Linked DNA regions of Homo sapiens. The protein of the gene in region 3 purifies or fractionates together with the protein of the main gene of each other region. This does not show direct contact. Each region holds a gene or a part of one and is shown on either strand. Other genes may lie near its edges.

Region 1 (3,500 bases), on a different chromosome or scaffold from region 3:
CCTATACACAAAGAAGCTAGGCCTGTTGGAAGAAGAGAGAGGCAGCCTGTGGTCCCACCACACAGCAAGTTGGAAGGGGTGACTCAAAGCCCAGATCTTGAAAGGCAGGATCTTGTGGCTGTTATGGTTAAGTACAACAGGAGACCCCCAGCATCCTTTAATAAGGGATCAGCTAATAGTGGCTGACCTGTGTTGAGTGCTGCCTGTGTGACAGGCACGATTCTACACACTTTGCATACATTAGCTCATTTTCTCTTCCCAGCAACTCTATGAAGTTGGAAGAAATACAAACCTCATTCCATGGTTGAGGAAGCTGAGTCAAACAGGCAGTAAACAGAGTAGCCAGAACTCAAAGCCAGGCTGTTTGGCTGCAGGCAATGACTGCAGAGGTGAACAAGGGCCAGACTGGTAGGGCCTTGAAGGCCAAGGTAAAGGGTTTGCATTTTATTTCAAGTGTAATGGAAAAAGCCACTGGAGGGGGACTGAGACTTCCTGGTCCATTCCCTTAGATCTGAACTAAGAGAGGGCACAAATTCTGGGACAAGAACACCAAATCTTGGCTGGGTTGGCTGTTAAACCAAACTACTGCAACTTCAGCCATACATAGAAGTCTAATCCAGCCCTGCTCGTATCAAGCAGAATGCTCTAGCCCCTGCAGAACTGGATGTCTTCCCTTTAGGTGAGGGTTCTCGAAGTGGGGCCCTAGACCAGCACCATCAGATTACCTGGGATCTTGTCACCAGTGCAATTTCTGAGGCCTGACCTCAGACCTACTGAATCTTAGAGACCCAGCAATCTGTTTCAACCAGCCTTCAGGGTAATCTGAATGTCCTCTGAAGTTGAAGAACCACCACTCTGGGATATCCGCATGCAGACACCACCATCACCACCAGCTCTCCTAAGTCATGCTGTGTATATCTTCGGGCAGCCCCTGCACTGCACACCAGGCCATTATTCCCGTAGGTCCCTGCTGGTGGGGCTCTACAGCTCCTGATTCCCGGAAATCTCATTACTGCCCCAACCCATTTTTCTAACAAATTTGATTTTCTGCACATATTTACTCTTCAAATGTTTCGGCCTCTTTTTCTGTTGTTTTTTGTTGTTGTTGTTTTGTTTTGTTTTTGAGATGCAGTCTTGCTCTGTCCCCCAGGCTGGAGTGCAATGGCACAATCTCGGCTCACTGCAACCTCCGCCTCCTGGGTTCAAGAGATTCTCCTGCCTCAGCCTCCCAAGTAGCTGGGATTACAGGCGCCTACCACCATGCCCAGCTAATTTTTGTATTTTTTAGTAGAGACGGGGTTTCACCATGTTGTTAAGGCTGGTCTCGAACTCCTGACCTCAGGTGATCCACCCGCCTCGGCCTCCCAAAGTGATGGGATTACAGGCATGAGCCACCACGCCTGGCCCTGTTTCAGTCTCTTTTGTCCCAGAGTAAACCTCCTCTTCCTTCCTACTTCTGGAGCTTAATTTTACTTTCAGGCTTAACCTAGGCTCCAAAGCAGATAGATGCAAAGGATACTTTCAGCTTTAACCTTGACTTTCCCCAACAGCCCTCAGTCACCGGATTTCCCTTTTTAATTTATTCATCCCAAGTTTATTCATGTTCCAATAAATATTTGTGCCCTCAGCCTTCTAGGAACTAATTGTGCAGGTGCCAGGTACTTCTGCCATACCAAAACAGACCTCATCCATGCCCTCATGAAACTGACCTATTAGGGGGAGATGGCAAGATGCAAATAAGTATATAATTGTAAATGATATATCAGAAAAGCCTGAGACTTGAATGATGAAGGGGCAGGCATGACAGTAGTTCATGACAGCAAACATATAGGGGCTGAATCTATGACAGATTCTGTTCTAAGTGCTTTTTACATATACTATCTAGGTAATCTTCCAACAGCCCTATGAGTTAAGTAGTATTATCACTCTCACTCTATATGGAAGGAAAATGAAGTATAGGGAGAATAAGGGGCACATAAACAGGACAGCCAGGGTCCCAACCCAAGCAGACTGGCACCAGAGCCTACCTTTCTAACCACAGGCTAAGGTGAGAAGAGCTGAGTGGAATGCTAAGTGGGAGGGGGTGGCTAGACAGGTGTCCAGGCAGAAAGACCAGAACAGAATATGCAGGAGCCCTGGGGAAGAGAAGTCACCCTGAAGCCAGAAGGGAGACCAAGCATACTGGTGAAACTGGAGAGCATCTGGTGGATTGGAAATATATTTTGGAACTGAACAGGATGTGCGCATGGATGTAGAGACGCTGATGGATGAATGGGGTATAAGCAAGGAGGAGGTCTCAAGGATGACTGCCAGTTTTCTGATTCCCTGCTTTAAAGGCTTGAGCACAGTCTGTTTGTAGGAAGCAAAGTATTATAACACAATATATAATGAAGTCCTACAGGATGCTGATGCACAGCAAGCTCTCAAAAAAATATAACCAATCCATCAGGCAGGTTAAAGCTTCCATATTCTCCCCCCCGCCCCACCCCCATACTTCTCCACATGGGTCTTCGTTCATGGGTTCCACCCTACCTTCTGGGAGCCCTTTTCTGAAATATATTACCACTGGTTAACAACAACAATAAAAATTACATTTATGGTGACAAGAATAACTTCTACCAGGAGGAGGGCTTTTCTCACACAAATGTTGGTTTGAAATTTTTTCTGAAGTGCACAAACTAATTTACAAATGAGAGGCTATGCAACTTGCCCAAGGCCACACAATTGCAAAAAAAAAAAAAAAGCTAAATCCAGGTTGGCCCAACTTGGAAGCCCACACTTCCTCCATTAAATCAGCATTTTCCACCACAGCTATCTCTAATGGAACACAACTGTTGTTTTCGATACACAGATGAACTTTTAAAGTGTTAATAGTAATGGTCTCATTTTATTATGTATAATCATATACGTGTGTGCATGTAATATCAAATAGATTAAAAATAGTATGTAAACATGATTTGATATAAATTTTATATATACATATATTTCAATAAATCCATGACTCCACGTGTAGTACTGCCCAGGAAACACAAAGTTTCTTAAAAAATTAGTTTAAAGAAAACTTCAGAATAAAAGTACAGGTGGTACAGGGGTAGGGTAGAAATCTTGAGGGAGGTAGGACATAAATAACTAAAGCTTAGGAAACTCTACTCACCAACCACCCAAGAACAGCCAAGCACCTGTTCCATATTGTACCCAAATTTGGCTACAGCCACACATAACTCTGTCTGCTTGGGAGAGTTAAAACATTGGCTGCCTTGGGGGAAAGGGGATAACATCAGAAGATAATTTAGCATAAATCATCCTCAAAGCAGTATTAGTTTTGACATAAATACTGGTTTGGTGGTACAACTCCTCTGCTTATTCACCTATACACCTTGGTTAAACGAGTCAAGCTTTCCCAGGCCTGTTTCACTTAGTCAAAAGGAAGTTATAGAAAGTAGTCCCTAAGGTCGCTTCCAGTTTTAGAACTCCATAAAATGTTGTGAGACCCTGAAATC
Region 2 (3,500 bases), on a different chromosome or scaffold from region 3:
TTAATGTTAATAGCTAGCATTCATACCAAAGTATCATTTTCATTTTGCTATTTGAGGCTGAAATATGTGACTTCTTTAATTTATGTGTATTTGCAGCATTTCAGGTACCTTTTAAAATCCATAGAGTTTGTGAGGATTATATGTACATGATTGAGTTCACTTTTAGGTTTTTTTCAATTGTGGTACAATATGTAAGTTGATCCAGGTGACATAAGTTGTGATAATAATTTTTCTCTTGATGAAATATCCCACCTCTTATAGTTAATACCTTTTATTTTAGTCTTTCATAACATTTCATGACAAAACTGCTCTTATTTTAGTATTCACATATTATATCTGTAAGTAGCTGTAGACTTAAAAATTTTCATTTTCCTTTTTCCAGATCATATTTGTTTGTACTGATTAATAAAAGGAGACCTTTCCAAACCAGAGAAATATCATTGAACCAGGGATTAGTAGAGGTAGACTTTATTTACACAATCTTAGGCCAGTCACGTAACTTCTCTGGTCGTTTGTTTTCTCATCCATAAAGTATTGAAGTACTTTTAGATAATTTCTTAGGTGCTTTCATTTACCCTTAAAAACTCTTATCATCCCATATGTTTTCCTACCACTGTTAAAGACAAGTATAGCCAGGCACAGTGGCTCACGCCTGTAATCCCAGCACTTTGGGAGGCCGAGGCGGGTGGGTCACAAGGTCAGGAGTTCAAGACCAGCCTGGCTAACATGGTGAAACCCCTTTTCTACTGAAAATAGAAAAAATTAGCCGGGCGTGGTGGCAGGTGTCTGTAATCTCAGCTACTCGGGAGCCTGAGGCTGGAGAATTGCTTGAACCCGGGAGGCGGAGGTTGCAGTGAGCTGAGATTCTGCCACTGTACTCCAGCCTGAGCGACAGAGCAACACTCCGTCTCAAAAAAAAAAAAAAAAAAAGAAAAGGCAAGTATAAAAGTTTCTGATAAGTGACCTAATAATTATTTCCACAAGGGGGAGCCTGAAAACTAGAGTTTACATAAGATGCCTTAAGTTTCTAAGACGGTGGGTTTATAGTAAAGGATTTAAGTACCTTTATGCTATATAATAAACTTTTTTGAGAAAAAAATTGCATCATATAGATAAAACTAATAAGTTTTGAAGAATCTGAAGAGGGCGTCATATTCTTTAGTCAAGACTGTTAAATACCATTCAGAGAAAAATCATGTCCTTTTTTATTAAACACTTAGCATTTTCTTACTTTTAAGATTCAGAAAAATGGCTGGGTGCAGTGGCTCATGCCTGTAATGCCAGCACTTTGGGAGGCTGAGGCAGACGGATAACCTGAGCCCAGGAGTTTGAGACCAGCTTGGGCAACATGGCAGAACCCCGTCTCTACATTAGCCAGGCATGGTGGTGTGTGCTTGTAGTCCCAGCTATCCCAGCTATGCAGGAGGCTGAGGTGGGAGGACCTCCTGAACCTGGGGGATTGAGGCTGCAGTGAGCTGTGATCATGCCACTGCACTCCAGCCTGCGTGACAGAGTCAGACCCTGTCTCAAAAGAAACCCAAAAACCAAAAATAAATAAATAAATAAAAGGTTCCAAAAAAAGTTTGGTCTGTTAGTTATGATTTATATTTAATATGCTAGTTATAATTTAGGGAGTTTTATTTCCTTTTTTTTGATTGTTTTTGGGGTGTGGGTAAGAACTTGTACTCAGGGTTTGAATCCTAGCTTCCATACATACTAATTATGTAACTTTAGGGAAGTTATTTACAGTTGAGATAATAGTATTATAGTAGTACCTCCTGGAATTGTCATAAAGATCAAATGAGATTATACATCTAACATGTTTAACAGTGTCTGTACAACAATCTTTTTAGTTAATATTACCTATTATGATTATATATAAATATATTTATGGGGTTTTCTTTCCCTAACTTACCCTTTTATTTTAGTCTCTATGAAGAAGCTGCAGAAAATTTGCATCAGCTGTCAGACAAGCTTCCTGCTCCTGGTAATATTTTATGACTGCTTTCAATAATTTGTATCTTATCTTATTACACTTTATGAATAAATGATAAATTTGTTCTTTATGTTAGTGTTCTCACTCTAATCTTTAAATTAAAAAATGCAAAACAATTTTTAATTGAAGTTGATACAGAATGTATCCATGGGAGTACATTACCGAGATGTAGCAGTTCTTTTCATTGTTTTCATTTAGTTAGGCAAAAATTAGAACTTTGGACATTAAATAACTATCTCTGTTTCTTTAGTTATTGCTGAAGAAGAATCTTCCTGCTACAGACTGTTGCTTTTCAGAGTATGTTCTATAGAAGACTAATCCTATAAACAGCTCTTTAAAAAGGAGATTATTTAGCCTTGATGATTTGGATAACATTCTTTTATGGTGAAGTTACTATATGCATTGTCAAATGGAATGTCATACCATAAAAGAAAGTGTTTCCTCAGCATTTTTTTATAGAACCTATTTTTTTCCCCATAGTGGAAAGAATACCTGTGACATACTGTATCATAATATTCCTAAAACTGGTTTTTTTCTTTTTTCCTTTGTGTTAATCAAGTAGCTGTCATCTAATATTTGGTACAGTTGGTATCCGCAAATACTTTGAAGAGTATTCTTTTCTGAATGCTTTATTGAAGGTCATTAGTAAGTAAATATTTGTACTAGGAGCCAAGTGTACCATGATGAATAAAGCATCTGTGATTAACATAAAGGAGCTTTTAGCTTATAGTCAGCCAGATCTCTATATTCAAGGAGATCATATATTAGTACAAAAAGCCCCACATAGAAAAATAACTGAATGAGTTGACAAACGTATCAACTTTTAAAATGAAATGTGTTGAGGTCAAAGTATGCACTGAAATATTACATAGTTGTTTTGGCAAATTAGAATACTTTCATTATCAAATTTATCTCCAGTTTGTTTCATTTTGATTTTTGTAGTCCTTCAGGAAATGTATAATTTTATAAAATTTAAAGTTTTGTGAAGTTATTTTTTCTCAGGATCCAATGATGATGTCAGTATAATTGGTTTTCAGAGTGTTTTATTGTCCTTTATAAAAGAGACATCATTTATTTGAACATTACAGTTTTGCACTTATTCATTCTCTTTTGGATAACAAAATTATGTTTAGAAAAATATAATGAAATTGCACAGGTTTTTTTTTTCTCTGTTGAGTACAATAGCATTGATGATCATGAGAGTGATGTGTGTAATTAACCACTGCTGCAGAATTGGCAAGTAATTATGATATAGTTTATTGTTTTCTAGTATATGCTAGCTATTTCAAGATAACATGGCTTTCAATAAATGATGAACATTTAAAAAGTTTGAATTCCTAAGGGCGTATATTGTTTTGGAGAATTTCAGAAATTAAAACTAAAAGCTTCCTTTGTCTTCTAAATAAATATAAAACTAATTTTTCTAAATAAACATAAAATTCAGTTCTTCAGGGTACTATTTTGAGACATTTCAGATCTAACTTTTTAAAAATTACAAAAATGC
Region 3 (3,500 bases):
TGTGGAAAGATGAAAGGTAGGGACAGGGCTTCTGGCATGCTGAATTTCAGCTAGGAAAACAGAAATAATGAAAAATTATAATTATTATAGGCCATTTGCAAACGTAACTACTTTGACAATTAATTCTCTGGGCAAATGTGTTCTAATTCTGATTTATAAACATTTGAAATGTGATTCATTTGTTAGATGGGAACTATGTATGGCAAATCAGTGTTGATAAATACATTTGATTCCCTGTGACTGGTGTTAATCTTTCTTGTAGTGCCTTTCACTATTGAATCCAATCCTCATTGTCTCTTGACTCTTTTTCTGTTCTTAGCTGCTGCTAGAAAATAAAACTCCTACTATCCTTTCCTCCTTCAGAACACTTTGTGAATTTTTTCCTTCACACCAGATTACGTAGCCTTGGTCATGTTACTTAGAAATTATCTTTTCTCTTTAGCAATCTTTTATCACCTCAAGGCAGCTCTTGATGTCACTAAAAGGTGGCTTTTACCTGTTGTTTTGACCTTAGTACTTAAAGACTGTTGGTATCATGATTCTGAATATTCTTTAATATAGTTATTGTCAAAGTCCCAAAACCAGTCCTTGCTGTAGTAAGCTGCCTTTACTGATGGAGTTATGTTCTTCAGATGTATTGTAGCAGAAAAAATGCTGAGAGCTCCTTTTTAAAAATTGAGATATAAGTCACATACCATAAAATTCACCCTTTTAAAAGTATGTGATCAGTATAGTGTTTTTTAGTAGATCGACGAGGCTGTGCAACCACCATCACTGTCTAATCCTAGGACATTTTCATGACCCCAAAAAGAAACCCATTAAGCAGTCAGTCCCATTCCCCTCTCTCCCCAGCCGTTGACAAGCACTAATCTACTTTCTGTCTCAGTGGATTTGCCTGTTCTGGACATTTCATATAAATGGACTAATTCAACATGTGGCCTTTTGTGTTTGTGTTTCTTTATTTAATGTAATGTTTTCAAGGTTCATCCATGTGGTACATGTATCAGTACTTCATACCTTTCTATGGCTGGATCATATTGCATTGTATAGATATACCACATTTTGTTTATATATTCATCAATTGGGCGTTTGGGTTGTTTCCACTTTTTGGCTAAAATGAATAATGCTTCGATAAGCAATTATGTGTGACTTGTTAGGTGGATGTATGTTTTCAGTATATACCTGGGAGTGGAATTTCTGGATCATATCCAAAGCAGCTGAGAACCAATTTTGAGTGACTTTACATTGACTTTGGTTTAGGACCAAGTTCTTTGTTCTTTGTGTACAAGACCTGACTAGTCTATTTTATTCCAGGACAGTGCTCACACCATAATCTATTGCAGTAATTCTGAAACAGAGATTCATACAGCTGCTCTCCTCCATCAACTTAGACCACTCTGACCTTTTCCTCAGGCAGCACCTTGTGCTGGAATTTTTTTTGTCTCAGGCAGCACCTTGTGCTGGAAATGCTTTTTTCTCAGTTGAAATGTACTGACAGCCTCAGAAAAAAATCCTAACTACGTATCTTAACATACAACTCCAATAAGTCCCACTTTACCCGTCACCCTGCAAAACATAGTCATTCACTGATATATTATGTAACTACTTCAGTGTATATGTGGTTAATGCTTATGTGTCCTTTGGGTCTTTCAGGTGAATGTTTATGGGTTAAAATTATAGATTTCCTTTAGGGCAATGATTGTGTTCTCCCCAGCTCTTGGCATATTGCCAAATTTTGACAGGTATTTTGTACTTTTGTGTATGTGTGTGTGTGTGTATCTGAAATTCATGTTTGAAAATCTTTTTTCTAAACTTGCTAACATTAAAAGCTTGAGGCATATTACGGGAAGAGTAGAAAAGTAATACCTGTGAAAATACCAGGAGAAGCAAAATTTGATGGGTTTCCTATGTTTTTACCCAGAATGGCACTGAACAATACCAAAATCAATCCAAAGGCAAGAGCAAGCTCGGTAGTTGGCTGAATCGAAATGGAAGGCCAAGGTATTTGAAAATTGAGCCACTAGAAATAATATTTTTTTGAAATATACTTTGAAAATGAACCCTTTAAAATGTGGATCAAATCTGTATTTCTAAAATTAAGGAAAACGTAATTAGTTTCTGAATCACAGTTGGCATTTAATTTTGCCTAAAATCACTGGTCTGTATAGCATGATCGTTTTATTTGAAATTTACCTTTTGTTACATGAGTAAAAAATTATTTAGACTAACTTCTATTCAAGGTAACTCAGTTACTCATCTCACTAGACAAGTTCTTTAAAGTCTATAACTTTATTGTAATCCATGAATTCTAACAAATAATCATCCTACAGAGAGGAATTTTTACATCATGATGAAGGGCCTACTCTGGGTGTTTCTAGACATTTGAATCTATAGGTTGTTTAGAGGACTAAAGGGATTGAATAAAAAGAAAACTTGTCAAGTCGTGCTAATGTAGTTTATATTAAACAAGTCATATTTTTGAGGAAAGAAGGAGTAGGTTTTTTTTGTTTTTCGGTTTTTTTTTTGAGACGGAGTCTCGCTCTGTTGCCCAGGCTGGAGTGCAATGGCGCGATCTCCGCTCACTGCTAGCTCCGCTTCCCGGGTTCACGCCATTCTCCTGCCTCAGCCTCCCGAGTAGCTGGGACTACAGGCGCCCGCCACCACACCCGGCTAGTTTTTTATATTTTTAGTAGAGACAGGGTTTCACCGTGTTAGCCAAGATGGTCTCGATCTCCTGGCCTCGTGATCCGCCTGCCTCAGCCTCCCAAGTGCTGGGATTACAGGCGTGAGCCACCGCGCCCGGCCGGGAGTAGGTATTACCTTTTTTTTTGAGCCAGAGTTTTGCTCTTGTTGCCCACGCTAGGGTGCGATGGCACGATCTTGGCTCACTGTAACCTCCGCCTCCTTGGTTCAAGAGATTCTCCTGCCTCAGCCTGCCGAGTAGCTGAGATTACAGGCATGTGCCACCAGCCTGGCAGATTTTGTATTTTTAGTAGAGATGGGGTTTCACCATGTTGGTCAGGCTGGCCACAAACTTCTGACCTTAGGGATCCGCCTGCCTCGGCCTCCCAAAGTGCTGGGATTACAGGCGTGAGCCACCGCGCCCGGCTAAAAGACTCCCTTTTTTTTTTTTTTCGAGACGGAGTCTCGCTATGTCACCCAGCCTGGAGTGCAGTGGCACGATCTCGGCTCACTGCTAGCTCCGTCTCCTGGGTTCACGCCATTCTCCTGCCTCAGCCTCCCGAGTAGCTGGGACTACAGGCGCCCGCCACTACGCCCGGCTAATTTTTTTGTACTTTTAGTAGAGACGGGGTTTCATCGTGTTAGCCAGGATGGTCTTGATCTCCTGACCTCGTGATCCGCCCACCTGGGCCCCCCAAAGTGCTGGGATTACTGGCGTGAGCCACCGCTCCCAGCCAAGACTCCCTTTAAGTAAATGAGTCTCCTAATGTTTTATTATGTGACTTTCTTTGCAAAAATTAAGTTTATACCTAATTTCC
Region 4 (3,500 bases), on a different chromosome or scaffold from region 3:
ACAGGTTGATGAACATAGTAAACCTCCTCATCTGAGGCATAGGGAGAGCTGGTCAAGCACTAAAGGAATTTTATCACCTCGAGCCCCAAAGCAGCAACAGCATCGATTAAGTGTAGATGCCAATCTTCAGATTCCTAAAGAGTTAACTCTTGCAAGCAAAAGAGAATTACTTCAAAAGGTAGTTACTATGATTAATCCCATGTAGTCATCATTATCTATCGTCTATTTTTTTGGTATTTTTTTATATTTAAAATATTTTATTTCCTTTTATCACCCCTATACAGACGAGTGAACGTTTAGCATCTGGTGAAATTACACAGGATGACTTCCTTGTTGTTGTGCATCAAATTCGACAGCTATTTCAGTATCAAGAAGGTAAACATAGATGCAATGTACGGGATAGTCCTACAGAAGAAAATAAAGGTGGATTAAAAAAGAAACCTCTCTTATCTGATGCTGAATTAACCTACTATGAACATAAAGCAAAACTGAAAAGGACACAGGTTCAGCATTCATTTCCAAGACTTGATCTCTTAGATCCTGATATTTTTGACTACCCTTTGACTGATGCCTTGTTGTCTGGAATAGAATGTGAGCCATCCAAAAGTAAACATGCAAGTAGGAATAGTGGAGCACAGTTTGACAGAAAAGAACAATTTAGTGAAAGAGCAAGACGTCTTTCTCCTATATCTGGGAGTCGTACTTATGCTGAGAATCTTTCACCCCATGAGGGCCGGAGAAGACATGACGAGCAAGTCTCTGCTAAAGGTAGAAAAAGTTAAATCAGATTATGCCTATTGAATCACACAGCAGTGAAGGGAAAATGAACAAGCTAAGTGGGGATGGATTTTTGTGACTGTTCAGATTACCATTTTTTTTCCCATTTATTTTGTTATGTTTTTTCCCTTTAAGGAAAGGGAAGGGAAGGGAGCTAATATTTCTAAGGCCAGTTGTGTGTCAGGTACTTCATTAGGTATTTTTTATATGTAATTTGATTTAATCCTCACAACAATACAATGAAGTGTATATTCTCCCTATTTTACAGATAGGAAATAAAAGAGAGGTTAAATAACTTGCTCTCAAAATGAAATAATTAGTATGTTGATAGGATGGTAATTTTTTTGTTACTCAGGTGTGTCTGACTCTAGAGGGCATCCTCTTATCTGCTGCTTTACGCTGTCGGTCTCTCCTGCCCCTCTAATGTAGTGAGATAGTTATATATTTGGATAAACATTCATACGAAAATAGAAGATTTTAAGATAACTTTAGTGAAAATAATTTTTTTCCTTTTTAAAAGGTGTGCGAGAAGAGCAGAGATCTCCATTCAATGATCGTTTTCCACTTAAGCGACCTCGATATGAAGATTCAGATAAACCATTTGTAGATAGTCCAGCATCAAGATTCGCCGGCCTGGATACAAATCAGCGACTTACAGCTTTAGCTGAAGACAGACCGTTATTTGATGGACCTAGTAGGCCATCAGTAGCAAGAGATGGCCCAACGAAGATGATTTTTGAAGGACCCAATAAATTAAGCCCTCGAATTGATGGACCTCCCACACCAGCTTCTCTTCGGTTTGATGGGTCACCAGGACAAATGGGGGGAGGAGGCCCTTTGAGATTTGAGGGGCCACAAGGTCAGCTAGGAGGTGGGTGTCCTTTGAGATTTGAAGGTCCTCCAGGACCAGTGGGGACACCTCTGCGGTTTGAGGGCCCAATTGGTCAAGCAGGAGGAGGTGGTTTTCGGTTTGAAGGTTCCCCTGGTCTGAGGTTTGAGGGATCTCCAGGTGGTTTGAGATTTGAGGGACCAGGAGGCCAGCCTGTGGGTGGTCTGAGGTTTGAGGGACATCGTGGTCAACCTGTGGGTGGTCTAAGGTTTGAGGGACCTCATGGTCAGCCTGTGGGTGGACTTAGATTTGATAATCCCCGAGGTCAGCCTGTAGGTGGACTTAGATTTGAGGGGGGTCATGGTCCATCAGGGGCTGCGATTAGGTTTGATGGACCTCATGGTCAGCCAGGAGGTGGAATCAGATTTGAGGGCCCTTTGCTACAGCAAGGGGTTGGAATGAGGTTTGAGGGCCCCCATGGTCAGTCAGTAGCTGGTCTGAGATTTGAGGGACAACATAATCAACTTGGTGGGAACCTTAGGTTTGAGGGTCCACATGGTCAGCCAGGGGTTGGTATCAGGTTTGAAGGCCCTTTAGTCCAACAAGGAGGTGGAATGAGGTTTGAGGGTCCTTCTGTACCAGGAGGTGGCCTGAGAATTGAAGGGCCTCTGGGTCAAGGTGGTCCAAGATTTGAAGGTTGTCATGCTTTAAGGTTTGATGGGCAGCCAGGTCAGCCGTCACTCTTGCCAAGATTTGATGGATTACATGGTCAGCCAGGTCCTAGATTTGAAAGGACTCCTGGTCAGCCAGGCCCTCAGAGGTTTGATGGACCACCTGGACAGCAGGTTCAACCCAGATTTGACGGTGTACCTCAAAGATTTGATGGTCCACAACATCAGCAAGCATCAAGGTTTGATATTCCTCTTGGTCTTCAAGGCACAAGATTTGACAATCATCCTTCACAAAGGCTTGAATCAGTATCTTTCAATCAGACTGGTCCATATAATGATCCACCTGGCAATGCTTTTAATGCCCCATCCCAAGGACTACAGTTCCAAAGACATGAACAAATATTTGATTCACCTCAAGGACCAAATTTTAATGGACCACATGGCCCTGGAAACCAGAGTTTCTCTAATCCACTTAACAGAGCTTCTGGACACTATTTTGATGAAAAAAATCTTCAGAGTTCTCAATTTGGAAACTTTGGCAATATACCTGCTCCAATGACAGTAGGAAATATTCAGGCATCTCAACAGGTAAGTCTGTTATTCTAAAATTGCGTTGTATGCAGATAAGTTAACCATTTTTTAATGTTTCTAGGAGGGTTTTCAGGACATAGTTTATTGTGTAGATTGGAAAGAAGTTTTTAATGTACTCTAAAGCCACATGCTAAGGAAGTGGGATGAGCATCTTTTGGGGATGAAATTTGCAACTTAAATCCAAAATTGATTTTAGCTCTTTCAGGATCTAGGGAAATATCTCAATCAAACCCCCACCTCCAGCTCTGTTTTTTCTTTTTCCTTTTTTTTTGCTTTAAAGCTTTTGAGATATTATACAATTGTGTGTCATAGACCTCTACATTGCAGAACTGTTGAGCCCTGACGTGCTTTAAGGTAGCCATAGAATTGATTGAACTGTTCTTTGACCAAGAATTTCCTTAACCTGAGTTAAATAAGAAGATCAAATTGTGTCCCTGCTTTCACAGTCTACAATTCTTTTTTTTTGGTCCTTTTTTCCTACTTTTTACCACCTTTCCAGTCACTTCAGTTAAACACAATTGTTTGATATTAATGACAACATAGCGAATAGCCTTCCAAATACACTCTGGTTACGAAACATGCACTGTTACCTGTTGGTATTCTTTCACACTTGTTCTGTATACATTTTAAAA

The links. The genes of interacting proteins can lie anywhere in the genome.
Region 1: the proteins of CDK8 (region 3) and MED12L purify together in Homo sapiens (affinity purification with mass spectrometry; 5 studies listed by BioGRID and IntAct, with this or other methods). This does not show direct contact.
Region 2: the proteins of CDK8 (region 3) and MTBP purify together in Homo sapiens (affinity purification with western blotting; 2 studies listed by BioGRID and IntAct, with this or other methods). This does not show direct contact.
Region 4: the proteins of CDK8 (region 3) and PCF11 purify together in Homo sapiens (affinity purification with mass spectrometry; one large-scale study listed by BioGRID and IntAct). This does not show direct contact.

Annotation. Positions count from the first base shown.
Region 1 is NC_000003.12:151,088,664-151,092,163, reverse strand, and holds part of MED12L (mediator of RNA polymerase II transcription subunit 12-like protein), read right to left. Parts: intron 1-3,500. UniProt on the Homo sapiens protein: May be a component of the Mediator complex, a coactivator involved in the regulated transcription of nearly all RNA polymerase II-dependent genes.
Region 2 is NC_000008.11:120,451,919-120,455,418, forward strand, and holds part of MTBP (mdm2-binding protein), read left to right. Parts: intron 1-1,928; coding exon 1,929-1,987; intron 1,988-3,500. UniProt on the Homo sapiens protein: Inhibits cell migration in vitro and suppresses the invasive behavior of tumor cells. May play a role in MDM2-dependent p53/TP53 homeostasis in unstressed cells. Inhibits autoubiquitination of MDM2, thereby enhancing MDM2 stability.
Region 3 is NC_000013.11:26,260,629-26,264,128, forward strand, and holds part of CDK8 (cyclin-dependent kinase 8), read left to right. Parts: intron 1-3,500.
Region 4 is NC_000011.10:83,167,131-83,170,630, forward strand, and holds part of PCF11 (pre-mRNA cleavage complex 2 protein Pcf11), read left to right. Parts: coding exon 1-178; intron 179-284; coding exon 285-768; intron 769-1,297; coding exon 1,298-2,865; intron 2,866-3,500. UniProt on the Homo sapiens protein: Component of pre-mRNA cleavage complex II, which promotes transcription termination by RNA polymerase II.